Linked DNA regions of Homo sapiens. The protein of the gene in region 4 purifies or fractionates together with the protein of the main gene of each other region. This does not show direct contact. Each region holds a gene or a part of one and is shown on either strand. Other genes may lie near its edges.

Evidence for each region. Proteins that work in one complex are often made in the same cells at the same time.
Region 1: the proteins of DNAJC17 (region 4) and PAXBP1 purify together in Homo sapiens (affinity purification with mass spectrometry, with the first as the bait; one large-scale study listed by BioGRID). This does not show direct contact.
Region 2: the proteins of DNAJC17 (region 4) and ISY1 purify together in Homo sapiens (affinity purification with mass spectrometry, with the first as the bait; 2 studies listed by BioGRID). This does not show direct contact.
Region 3: the proteins of DNAJC17 (region 4) and SYF2 purify together in Homo sapiens (affinity purification with mass spectrometry; one large-scale study listed by BioGRID and IntAct). This does not show direct contact.

What each region holds. Positions count from the first base shown.
Region 1 is NC_000021.9:32,765,256-32,768,755, reverse strand, and holds part of PAXBP1 (PAX3- and PAX7-binding protein 1), read left to right. Parts: intron 1-3,500. UniProt on the Homo sapiens protein: Adapter protein linking the transcription factors PAX3 and PAX7 to the histone methylation machinery and involved in myogenesis.
Region 2 is NC_000003.12:129,130,064-129,133,563, forward strand, and holds part of ISY1 (pre-mRNA-splicing factor ISY1 homolog), read right to left. Parts: intron 574-3,500; coding exon 487-573; intron 126-486; coding exon 18-125; 3' UTR 1-17. Other genes in the region: ISY1-RAB43 protein, read right to left, coding at 25-125, 487-573. UniProt on the Homo sapiens protein: Component of the spliceosome C complex required for the selective processing of microRNAs during embryonic stem cell differentiation. Required for the biogenesis of all miRNAs from the pri-miR-17-92 primary transcript except miR-92a.
Region 3 is NC_000001.11:25,222,503-25,226,002, reverse strand, and holds part of SYF2 (pre-mRNA-splicing factor SYF2), read left to right. Parts: intron 1-902; coding exon 903-1,001; intron 1,002-2,571; coding exon 2,572-2,737; 3' UTR 2,738-3,500. UniProt on the Homo sapiens protein: Involved in pre-mRNA splicing as component of the spliceosome.
Region 4 is NC_000015.10:40,767,068-40,769,473, reverse strand, and holds part of DNAJC17 (dnaJ homolog subfamily C member 17), read left to right. Parts: intron 1-1,411; coding exon 1,412-1,534; 3' UTR 1,535-2,124; coding exon of another isoform or gene 2,125-2,248; 3' UTR 2,249-2,406. Other genes in the region: GCHFR (GTP cyclohydrolase 1 feedback regulatory protein), read right to left, coding at 2,125-2,248. UniProt on the Homo sapiens protein: May negatively affect PAX8-induced thyroglobulin/TG transcription.

The sequences.
Region 1 (3,500 bases), on a different chromosome or scaffold from region 4:
CAGTAAGGGTTTACATTTGCTACAGTGGCTTGCCAAGATGGTGACATGATAAATGCGTTTTGAAACTTTAGCCTGGTATTAACATGCAGCATGAGGAGAGATTGGAGGCCTAAAGCAGTTTAAACTCAAGGGCCAGCTTTGATCCATTAATAGTGGGTTTAAAAAGGTCTCACAGTTGAGCAAGAGTAAAGGCTTCTACTGATTTAGTAGGAAATTCTGGATGAGTTAAAAATGTTTTCTGTTGTTTTAGGGGGAGAAGTGGAAAGAAAGAATGATTTGAGAACCATTCCAAGGGAAGAATTGATAGGCTTAATATACACTTTGCCATATTGGATTTAAAAGAAAGAGTCAAATTTGAACTTTTGTCCTGGAGTGTCTTAATCCATTTTCTGCTCCTGTAACAATACTACAGACTAGGTAATTTATAAACAATAGAAGTTTATTTGGTTGACAGTTCTGGAGTCTGGGAGGGCCAAGAGCATGGCACAGGCATCTACTAAGGGCCTTTATGTTGTCATAACATGGTAGAAGGGCAGGTGAGTCTCCAAGACAGAGAGAGAATATCCTGCCAAACTCATCCTTTTATCAGGAGCCTGGGATAATGGCATTCACCTTCTCATGTTGTAACTGCCATTTAAGGGCCCCACCTGTTAATAACGTTACAATGGCAATTAAATTTCAACATGAGTTTTGGAGAGGACACTCAAACCATAGGGTGTCTTGGTTATGAATAATTATATATAGGAATAGAGAAGGCAAGTGGAAGGAGGAATGTTTTTAGGAGAACTGGTTATTTTGGAGTCTAGGAAACTGCCTTATTTTCCTCAGAATTCTTGAGACCAACTATATATGATGAGAGTAAAAGAAAGGTCAGGATAAGTGACAACTGAGAAAGGCCTGTTGTCATGGTTGTTGTATTAAGTCTGTTTTCATGCTGCTGATAAAGACATACCCAAGACTGGGAAGAAAAAGAGGTTTAATTGGACTTACAGTTCCACGTGGCTGCGGAGGCCTCAGAATCATGGCAGGAGGTGAAAGGCACTTTTTACATGGCGGCAGCAAGAGAAAATGAGGAGGAAGCAAAAGCGGAAACCCCTGATAAACCCATCAGATCTCGTGAGACTTATTCACTGTCATGAGAATGGCACGGGAAAGACCAGCCCCCATGATTTAGTTACCTCCTCCTGGGTCCCTTCCACAACACGTAGGAATTCTGGGAGATAAAATTCAAGTTGACATTTGGATGGAGACATAGTCAAACCATATTAGTTGCCATTTATTGTTGGGTTTAGAAATTGAAACAAGTGTGAAGTTGATGAAGCCATCTCTGACCTCTTCCATCCTTCTATCCTCATTGAATTCTGATACTCCACTCACTAGATAACTCCAATTAATGTCCTCTGAAGGCGGAGTCTGATTGTATTGTAGGTTGTCATTGGTAACACTGAAATGAAGGTCTGTCATTAATTGGCAATCCAGAACTCTTCCTACCTTCAACCCTCTATAGTAGGCAGAGACAATTAACTTCAAAATAACCACGGTATTGACTTGAGAACCCCATTTTTCTGATATTCTTAAAATAATGAGTTCTCTTTTTAATTTGAATTTGAGTGGAAGTAGTCAGTGAATACCTAGAGATGTAGATTTGGGGGTGGTGCTTATTGCGGTGATAATTAAAGGTGAATGGAATTGATGAGGGAGCCGTATATAAAGGAAAAATTCCTGAAGACCAAAGACTTCTACTCTAGTAAGCCTACATGTAGAGGAAGGGATTTACCAAAGAGATAAAAGAATCAGGAAGGCCAAAGAGGAAAAGAGAAGAATGTTTCAGGAAGATGATGGTCGCTTGTGTGAACTAGTACAAGAAAAGTCAGGAAAAGTGAGGACCAAGGAGGGGCTATTGGCAAGATTGCCCAGCGTTTCTCTTGAGGGCTTCTGACAGGATGGATGGGAGTGGCCCACCAGCCAGACCCAGTGCCCTCAGAGATGTTTGGAAGAAGGAACATCTTTTGCTAAATTGCTTGATGATGCTATCATATATGAATTAGCCGTGGCTGCAGCCATTGGGTTAGGTTGGGTGAAATCAAAGGCTGTTTGTAGGGTCAAGGCACAAAAGTTGGAGAGGAAGTAGAGGGCAGCAGGTCCACACTGCTTCCTTGGGAAGTTTGGCAGAGAGAGACTAGGCAATAACTAGAGGGACCAATGGAGTCAAGTGGGAAAGCTCTTTTGATGAAGAGAAGCCTGTCCCTCTTTGTAGAAGAGGAGAGGGAGAGCCTGACCAGGTTTAAGGTGAAGTGGGTAATAATTGTGAGCAGGTTTCCTGAAGTAGTAGTAAATGAAATTGAAGGCATGAGTGGAGCCTTGAAAAAGGTTATTTAACATCTATATAGAGATGTCTGGAAGGGTAACATGTGACCACTGACATTCACATATCACCATGCTTTCGGCTTGTGTTTGCTCAATCATAAGCAAATACTTGTGAATTTAATGAAACATTGAATCCTAAAATTTGTAGGAATCATTCATTATCTGAGCATATCTGATGTAGTAGACCTTTTGTGCTTTTGTTTTTAGTCCATTAACAGCCATTGGTTTAGCATGGGTAAATTTGTTTTGTTTTTGAGGTGGAATCTCGTTCTGTTGCTCAGGCTGGAGTGCAGTGGGGCGATTTCACCTCACTGCAGCTTCTGCCTCCTGGGTTCAAGCGATTCTCCTGCCTCAGCCTCCTGAGTAGCTGGGACTACAGGTGTGCGCCACCAAGCCCAGCTAATTTTTGTATGTTTAGTAGAGACAGGGTCTTACCATATTGGCCTGGCTGGTCTTGAACTCCTGATCTCAGGTGATCCACCCGCCTTGGCCTCCCAGGGGATTACAGGCGTGAGCCACCATGCCTGGCCTAGCATGGGTTTAGAGCAAAAGGAAATAGGTAGTTTTTACTCCATCTAATAATGTGATAAAGTGAGTTTTAAAACCTTATAGCTTCATAATCCATTTCAGAGGGAAGTCTGGGTAATGAGAAAATGGTAAATGAAAAAAAAAAAGAAAAAAAATGAAAGAGCCTAAAAGAGGTTACCTAAAATCTTCTTGGTAAAGTTAAAAAGAGGGGAGGGATGTTATCTCTGGGACTGTTACTTAAGGGAGTACAGTATGGTTTGAGAAGAAGGAAGAAGTTTGAAGCAGTTTTGGGGACAGGAACATTCTAAGGAAATGACAGAAAAATATCTTTCATATTGAGAATAAACTTTTGCTTTACTCTTTCAGTATATTCCTTGTGCCTGTTGTGAGCATTACCAGGTTCAGTGCTTCAAGGTGAAGCACTTCGATTTTTGCCTGGGACAGAGGCTGTATTAGGATTATTTAATTGTAAGTAATGTAAACCAGGACAGTTTATCATTAAGATGTAGTGGTGCCTCCTGGATGACAATGGCAGGAAAGCAATCTTGAAATGGGCCTCAGGAGTGGATTAGAACTGAGAATTAGGAGGCTCTCTTCTCTGTCCA
Region 2 (3,500 bases), on a different chromosome or scaffold from region 4:
AGAGCCCCAGCTGGGTCCTAATACCCCAGGAGCCTTCTGGCTTCTTCACTTTGGGCCTGCAGGGTCTCGCTTGCATACTTCTGGAGGAGTTCCATTTTCTTCCTTCGCACCAGTGCCTCCTCAATCTGTGGAAATTAAGAGTGCAGGGCTCACTCCTCAGCAAAGCCCCTCAACCCCTGCCAGACCCAGCCAGGAGGAAGTCCCCGTGGGAGAAGTCCATCAAGGAGTCTGATTTAAATACGCAGAATAGTCTCCAAGAGTCCTAACTCCCTCCCATTGGAAACATTTGAACGATAGAATGGCCTAGAGCAGAGGGTCCTGCCCTTTTTGGACCCCACACCCTGAACACAATGACAGGTGTCATGTGGTCAGGACCCTGAGCTGCCCTGATGGGTAGGAAGGACAACGAAAACCCACTACAGTGCTCTGTGAAGTCTGCTTTAGAGAAGCCCCCGGCGCCCAGGCAGCTCTTAGCTGTGGTCCTACCTCTTGCTGCGAGGGAACAGGGACGTGAGCAATGAACTTCTGCTGGCTGTCGTCCCCTCCTTTCTCCTGGCTGCCTTCCTCGTCCGACTACAAACAGAACAAACGAAAGTCCATCAGTAGGCGCCCAGCTAGATAAATGCTGGCAACTCTATAAAACACACTACTCTGCAACTATTTAAAAGAAAAAAAAACTAAGAAAGTTCTATACTTATAGAAAGACACTTGACCCACAAGATTAAGTAAAAAAAGCCATAGAACACGCTGTATATTATGCTACCTTTTGTCTAAGGAGGAAATAAGAATAGAAATTACTGACGGCAGTGAGACCAAGGTAGATGAGGGACAGGGTGAGGAAAGAGAATCTTTGTGGAATATCTTTATATTCTTTTTCACTTTTGAACCTTGTGAATGTATCACTATTTTAAAAAATTTAAATGTAAAAGAATGTACCATGCATAGAAAAATAATCAGCTCAGAGGTTGCCTATGAGTCAATACAAATTTCTAATAACAAAGAAAACACCACGGACTTGGAAAGAGAGAAGGGGTCTTGTGGCGAGTCAGGAGTCCACTGTTTGCTGGGCTCTGCCAGACACCGTGCACGACCCATTCCCTGACTGGCTCCCAGTGGGGATGGCTTCAAAAGCCTCTTGAGGAACCTCTCATCCACTGCTGGCACTTGGAGAAACTGGTTGTATCTAACACTAAACACATACCTACCCTGATCTGGTGGTTCCACTCCTCAGCATGTACTCAAGAGAAACACTGCACGGGAACAAGAAAATTCCCAGCAACCCTATCTGCCAAAACCCCAATCTGGACACAACACAAATACCCACAAACATTAGACACAAAAGAGTACACACGACTCACATATGTAAAGTTCAGACACAAGTGAAATATATGGGTCACAAGAGGTCAGGAGGGTGACCCCTGAGGCAGTAGTGAGCTTCTGGCGCTGTGGTCCTGTTCTGTTTCTTCACTGGTATTTGCTATGTGTGTGTGTGTTCACCCTGTGAAAATCCAGTGACCTACACATTTAGCAGGTGTGTACTTTTCTGTATATGGAACAACACTCAGCAGTGAAAAGGAATGAACTATTGAACTCAACAACCAGAGGGATGGCAAGGGCATCATGTTAAGTGTCAAGGCCATCGTGAAAGGTGACTCACAGCATGATCCCATTTATAAAACATTCTGAAATGACAAAATCAGAGATGGAGAACAGGTTAGGGTTCAGCTAGGAGAAGAGATGGTGAGGACAGGGAGGTGTGAACTGTGAAGGGGTGGCACCAGGGATCTTTGTAGTAAGGGGACAGTTCCCAGGCTGGAGTGCAGTGGTGCAATCACAGCTCACTGTAATCTGAACCCCCTGAGCTCAAGCAATTCTCACACCTCAGCCTCCTGAGTAGCTGGGACTATAGGCATGTCCAACCACACCTAGCTAATTGTTTTTATTTTTGGTAGAAACAGGGCCTCATTGTGTTGCCAGACTGGTCTTGAACTCCTGAGTTCAAGCAATCCTCCCACCTCAGCCTCCCAAAGTATTAGGATTACAGGTGTGACCACCACCCCCGGCCAGTTCTGTATCTGGATTGTCATGATGGCCACATGGATCTCCACACATGGAGACAAATGACACAGAACTCCACACACTCAATATGCCAATGTCAACCTCCCAGTTTTACTACTGTGCTAGAACTACATGAGATACAACCACTGGGGGGAACTGGGTGAAGCATACACAAGATCTCTCTGTACTCTTTGCAACTTCCTGTATCTCTATAATTATTTGAAAAGAAAAAAAAATTCTGCTGTGGGTTTCCACTGCTCTTCCCCACAACGCCAGCTCCCCATCAGCCTCCACTCACACCCAGCACCCACTCTCTGCACTCCAGCACACTGGGCTGTCCTTTGTCTCTCACACTCATCACAGGATCTCTCAGCACATGATGCGCCCCTGCTGGGAGCCCTCTCTCATCTCCTCCTTCCTTGGTTAAGTTCGCTGGATCATCCTAATCTCAGCTGAGGGTTTAGCTTCCCAGCAGAGTGTCTGCAGGCTGTCCCTGCACCAGGCTCTATTGAGGGACTGTTGCTCACTGTCTCTCTTACTGGACTGCCTCCCCCTGGACTATGAGCTACACTCCAAGCCTCTGTACCACCATGCCCCTGCACCTGGAATGCGGCTGGCTCACAGGAGCCATGAATTAAACACCTGCTGAGAGAGCAAATGAATATTTGTACCTAGAGGAAATCCTCCTAAGGCATGCTGCCATCCTGCTTCAGACCTGCACTGAACCCCAGTGCTGGCCCAGCTGGACATGAGCAGGAACGTCAGGCCTGTTATATCCCATGTGACATTAAGTCACTAAACCTGAGCCTGCTTCTTCACCAGTGATGTCTCAGCAAGCTCCTCATGTGGAACCTGAGCCATCATCCATGTGTGGGTGATCCCCTCCCTTCTCTCAGTCCAGCAAATCAGATCCACCTAGACCTGTGCAGGCAGCAAGGACTCCAAATATAGGGCCCCGCAGAAGAGCTCTGCCTGGGAGGCAGAGATTTCAAATGTTGAATTTTCCTTGTTTCAGAATACCTCCTTTAATGCAGTGAAGTTTTGGTAATGTTTCATAGAAAAAATAAAAGGTGTAGCACAGACAGATATGTCAAGATTACTTACATGGTGGCTATAATAAAAAGTAATAACTAAGATATATAATGAGTATTTCCTATAAATCAGAAAATATGCAAAAGATCAGAAAATATGCAAAAGGTCTGAAAATATGCAAAGATTCCCCAACCATGACCCTCTAAGAAAGTTTCTTCTCTGCTCTGCGTTTCTTTCCATGTGTAAGACAGGGGTGTTAGGGCTGGGAGCAATGGTTCACACCTGTCATCCCAGCACTTTGGGAGGCCAAGGCAGGTGGATCACAAGGTCAGGAGTTCGAGACCAGCCTGGCCAATATGGTGAAACCCCGTCTCTACTAAAAATACAAAAATTAGCCATGCGTGGTGGCA
Region 3 (3,500 bases), on a different chromosome or scaffold from region 4:
TGTATTTTTAGTAGAGATGGGGTTTCACCATGTTGGCCAGGCTGGTCTTGAACTCCTGACCTCAGGTGATGTGCCCACCTTGGCCTCCCAAAGTGCTGGGATTATTGGTGTGAGCCACTGCACATGGCCCTATTTTTTTTTTTTTGAGACAGAGTCTTGCACTGTCGCCTGGGCTAGAGTGCAGTGGCGTGATCTCGGCTCACTGCAACCTCCGCCTCCCGGGTTCAAGCAATTCTCCTGCCTCAGCCTCCCAAGTAGCTGGGATTACAGGCATCTGCCACCACGCCCAGCTAATTTTTGTATTTTTAGTAGAGATGGGGTATCACCATGTTGGCCAGGCTGGTCTCAAACTCCTGACCTTGTGATCCGCCCACCTCAGCCTCCCAAAGTGCTGGGATTACAGGCGTGAGCCACTGCGCCTGGCCTCCACATGGTCCTATTTTAATTCTTTTAATTAAAAAAAATTTTTTTTTTTGAGACGGAGTCTTACTTTGTCGCCCAAGCTGGAGCACAGTGGGGCGATCTTGGCTCGCTGCAGCCTCCACCTCCCGGGTTCAAGTGCTTCTCCTGCCTCAGCCTCCCAAGTAGCTGGGACTACAGGTGTGTGTCACCACGCCCGGCTAATTTTTATATTTTCAGTCTCTACTGGGTTTTGCCATGTTGGCCAGGCTGGTCTTGAACTCCTGACCTCAAACGATCCGCCTGCCTTGGCCTCCCAAAGTGCTGGGATTACAGATGTGAGCCACTGCACCCAGCCTGTATGTTTTTTTAAAAAAAAATTAAAGTAGGATCTCACAGTAAATGTATGTGTATACTTTCTTATCATGTATGGTACTTTAGTTTGAAATTTGAAAATGGAGCATTTATAGTGTTACTGTAAGTTCATTTTGCTGCCTTTTCAGTGGAGAAGAGTTTTTCCCAACATCCAATAGTCTTCTTCATGGAACACATGTGCCTTCCACAGAGGAAATTGACAGGATGGTCATAGATCTGGAAAAACAGTAAGTATTCAGTAGAGCAGCTTGACGTTGTAAATACTTCATGACAAAATGCACTTAGAATATGCACCTATATCTGACGTGCTTAGAATGAATTCAAAAGATAGAAATTGTACAGTTATACTTGCTAATTTTTGACCTGTCTATAGTGGCTTGGGGATGGATAGCAAGTGTGGGTTGAATATATCTGATTTGGAATGGAGATGAAGAATGTTGATGAAACTGAATTGTTAATATTGAAGGGGAAAGGTCTAAAAAAAATGATCCTTCTTTAAGGATTTTACTTTAACCACTCCCCTGTTTGATTTGAAGAAGCAAGAATGTTGTAGTAAATGTTCCTCGCTTAGGTTTGTGTTTCTTAATACTGATAGAGGCGACTATTAGGTAGAGCAGAATGAAAATATATTTTAGGAGTTAATACATGAAAAGTATTAAGAATAGTGTCTGGGCTGGGCGTGGTGGCTCCTGCCTATAATCCTAGCACTTTGGGAGGCTGAGGCAGAAGGATTGCTTGAGCCCAGGACTTTGAGAACAGCCTGGGCAACATGGCAAAACCCTTTCTCTACAAAAAATATACAGGAATTAGCTGGGCATGGTGGTACGTGCCTGTAGTCCTAGCTACTTGGGAGACTCAGTCAGGAGGATCACTTGAGTCCAAGAAGTGGAGGGTGCAGTGAACTGTGATTGCATCACTGCACTCCAGCTTGGGCGACAGAGCGAGACCCTGTCTCAGGAAAAAAAAAAAGTGTCTGGCACATATTATGTGCTCAGTATTAGCTGTGGTTATTATTTAATATAATTTTTTTTTTTTGAGACGGAGTCTCACTCTATTGCCCAGGCTGGAGCGCAGTGTCACGATCTTGGCTCACCACAACCTCCACCTGCCAGTTTCAAGCGATTCTCTTGCCTCAGCCTCCTGAGTAAATGGGACCACAGGCGTGTACCACCACTCCTGGCTAATTTTTGTATTTTTAGTAGAGACGGGGTTTCGTCATGTTGACCAGGCTGGTCTCAAACTCCTGGCCTCAGGTGATCTACCTGCCTTGGCCTCCCAAAGTGCTGGGGTTACAGGCATGAGCCACTGCGCCTGGCCTATTTAATATTGTTATAGTTATCTTCTTTTTTAGAAAATGTATTCAAAAAAATTTTTTTTATAGTGATGGAGTCTTCCTATGTTGTCCAGGCCCTGGTCTGGAACTCCTGGGCTCAAGTGATCCTCCCAGAGGACCTTTTGGGAGGCCTTGTCCTCCAAAAGTAGTGGGATTACAGGCATGGGATTACAGCCGCCATGCCCAGCCAATAGTTATCTTCTTCAGTACAGTCAAGTTCCCAACAATGAGTCATCGCTCTAGCATTCTGAAGATGAATTTGTATTTACTGGATTTCACAGTTCATATTCTGAGTTGTGCCATTAATTCAGTTTCAACTTTAACTTGATGAAAACTCTCCTGGCTTCCTCTAGCCCTCACAACATGTGCTATTCTAAACGTGATTATATTCCTGTTTGGTTGTGTTTTATTAAGATCAAAAGAGAAGGCAATTTTGAATTTTGTAAATTTTCTTCTTTCCCCAGGATTGAAAAACGAGACAAATATAGCCGGAGACGTCCTTATAATGATGATGCAGATATCGACTACATTAATGAAAGGAATGCCAAATTCAACAAGAAAGCTGAAAGATTCTATGGGAAATACACAGCTGAAATTAAACAGAATTTGGAAAGAGGAACAGCTGTCTAATCCCTTCAAGAACTGTTTATAGAAGCTTGAGAATGGGGTAAAAATTTCTGCTAGCAAAATCAAGTTCTTTTTGAAATTTTATCAGTAATCCAGAATTTAGTAGTCCATGCCTTCTCACTCAGCATTTAGAAATAAAAATGTGGTTTCTTAAACGTATATCCTTTCATGTATATTTCCACATTTTTGTGCTTGGATATAAGATGTATTTCTTGTAGTGAAGTTGTTTTGTAATCTACTTTGTATACATTCTAATTATATTATTTTTCTATGTATTTTAAATGTATATGGCTGTTTAATCTTTGAAGCATTTTGGGCTTAAGATTGCCAGCAGCACACATCAGATGCAGTCATTGTTGCTATCAGTGTGGAATTTGATAGAGTCTAGACTCGGGCCACTTGGAGTTGTGTACTCCAAAGCTAAGGACAGTGATGAGGAAGATGGCAGTGGCCACCGGAGGACTGGAGCAGTCCCTCCTCATGGCGGCCTGTGACCAAGGTCGGGGAGGAGTGGAGCTATCCTTCCATGATCTGATCATGTACAGTTCCCTTTTTAAAAAGCAATAAATGCTTGGGATTAGAATTTCTAACATTTTTAGTCTATCATTTAAAACAAACATTTGTATATATACATTTGTTTATATACATACATGCTTCCATTCTACAAACACTGAAAGAATATTTTATTATGGGAAATTCCATACACCCAATACCCCTGGTGAGTCCCATATACCCAGTACCCTGTTCAACAATCATTAACTCATGG
Region 4 (2,406 bases):
TTTTCTTGGCAGAGCAGCATTAACCTGGGGATGGGAGATGTGGCCTCCTCTTGGCCTGCCATCAGCCTGGCTGCTATTTCCTTGTCCTCCCTTGTTTTACCCTAGAGGGCTCCTGCCAGGAGAGCGGCTGCTGAAGGCCGGGCCGTGTTGCCTCCTACCTGGCTGTGCTCCAGCCCTTCCCCTCTGGCTACCGGGCTTCCTCTGGGGTCCTCCTTCTCTTGCAGGAGGCTGGGCCAGGGAGGCTGCCGTGAATTGTCAGCCGTGCTCTGGGCCAGGCTTAGCAGTCCGGCCTAGCTGGGACTGCTGCAGCCGGGGAGAGGGGAGGGGTGCAGCCATCGGGAGGAACAGGGGAACCCAGGCTGAGTAACACTTCCTGTTTCTCTACACCCCTTACTCCAAACCTGCTGGCCAGGGCCTGGCATCTCAACCCTAGCTGCTCCCTTCCTATTCCCCGGGTCACTGACCACCACATTTTCCTCCTGCCTTGCTCTGTGACAGCGTCCCCATGCGGGGTACCGCGGATCAGGGCCCCACAGCTCTCTGCTACGGGCAGGCCACCGCATCTTGCAATCCCTGGCCTAGCTCACTTCTGTGCCAACTCAGGTGTGCTTCACACTTCTCTGAGAAGCTGTTGGGACCACATGATCATCACACAGCCTAAGCGGCACCGAGGGAGGAAAAGGTTTAATTCCCACCGCAGACCTTATCAGGGCGTGGGTTGGCAGCTTAGGTCCCGCTGTAGAGCTGCTTCTCCACCCTACAGCCTTGGCCCATTCAGATGGTTGTTTATTATTCTTTTGATTATGGGCCCTGCCCTCCAGGAGCCCTGGTGTGTAGTTTTAGAGGCACGCTGGCCTCATGCTTGCCTTTTTCCCCTTCGAGGGTGGGGCATTCCGGGCTGCCTCGGGTAGGGCTCCCTTCTGCATCCTCAGCAAGAGCCAGACCACAGGGCACCGGGCATAGAGAGTGCCAGGGTCAGTGCCCAGCAGAGCCAAGTGCATCCCTGCTCCTCAGACAACTTCCCTTCCTTGGGAACCTAAGAGGCAGAAGCTACGGGGTAGAGGGAAAGGGGTGAAGGGTAAAGGGCCCAGAGGAAATGAAGGGAGACGAGGGCCTGGCTTAGAGGGCCCGCAGGTGATTCCTGAGAAACAGATGGACCGGAGCTGACGCGGCCTGGGGAAAGGGAGGGGGAGCTGGCTGGGTAGAAGCCGGCCTGGAGGCCAAAGGTGGCGTGTTCTGGGGGACACAGGCGAGCCAGGATTCCAAAAGGATGCTCCGGGTTCCTTCCCTTCCTCTGCCGTCCTCCCTCCGAGACTCTTAGAACGCAGCACTGCCTCGGCACCGTACTCGGAGTCTGTGAGGCTGTGCCCTGCTGTCCCTGACCCCTCCCTGTCCCTGCCCTGTCCGACAGGGCTCAGTGCTGTCAGAGAGGGACTACGAGAGCCTCGTCATGATGCGCATGCGCCAGGCGGCCGAGCGGCAACAGCTGATCGCACGGATGCAGCAGGAAGACCAGGAGGGGCCGCCTACGTAGCCCCAGCTCCAGCCATCCACCCCTCAGCCCTTTTCTTCAACGTCACCAATAAATTTTTTTTTTTTTTAAGATTTTACCTCTATCCCATACATAGGTATAAGGTGCTGGGCTCTGCCGCAGAGCGCTCCACCCAGGCCTGGCGCCCCTCCCAGGAAGTGGGCAGACCCCCAGGGAAACGCTCCGCAGGGTGAGAGTCCCAGAGTCCGTGCACAAGCAGAGCACAGGCGCAGCCACTCATCACAGCCCTTTATTGGCTTGGGCTAGCTATGCAGGAGCCACGCGCCAGGGCCGCTGGAGTGCCCAGCTCCGGCCCGGGGCAGCTGCCCGAGGAACATGGCCTACACAAGGCCCTCGGCCCAGGCCCGAAGCAGGAGGGCAGCTGGGAGCACCAGGGCACCGGGCACTGCCCTCTCCCACTGCTTGACGCAGGGTTTCAGAGAAGGCCATTCACTGCCCTTTGGGGCTGGGCCCATGGCGGTGATGATTTGGGAAGAGAGGAGCAAGGCAGACGGTGAGGCAGGAGCTTGGAGGTCAGGGCCCACAGCAGCCCCTCCACAGGGGTGCCCCGTCTGCAAATCAGCATGAGAAGGTCACTCCTTGTGCAGACACCACACCAGCGTCTGGCCCACCCCCGTCATGCTCAGCACACGGAAGCCCCTGCGTTCCAGCTTGTCCAGGACTATGCGGGGAGGGTCATCGACGTAGTATTCATAACTGCAAAGAGACAGGATGGGGGGGGTGAGGAGGGGCACACAGCAAGCTCCTGGTACAAAGCTAGTGTCTGCAGCAGGCAGCCTGGCCACTCTTGTAGTGACTCACACTTGCTGGCTGCTTGCTGGGCGCTGGGGTAAGTGCACGCCCCCTGCCTCCTC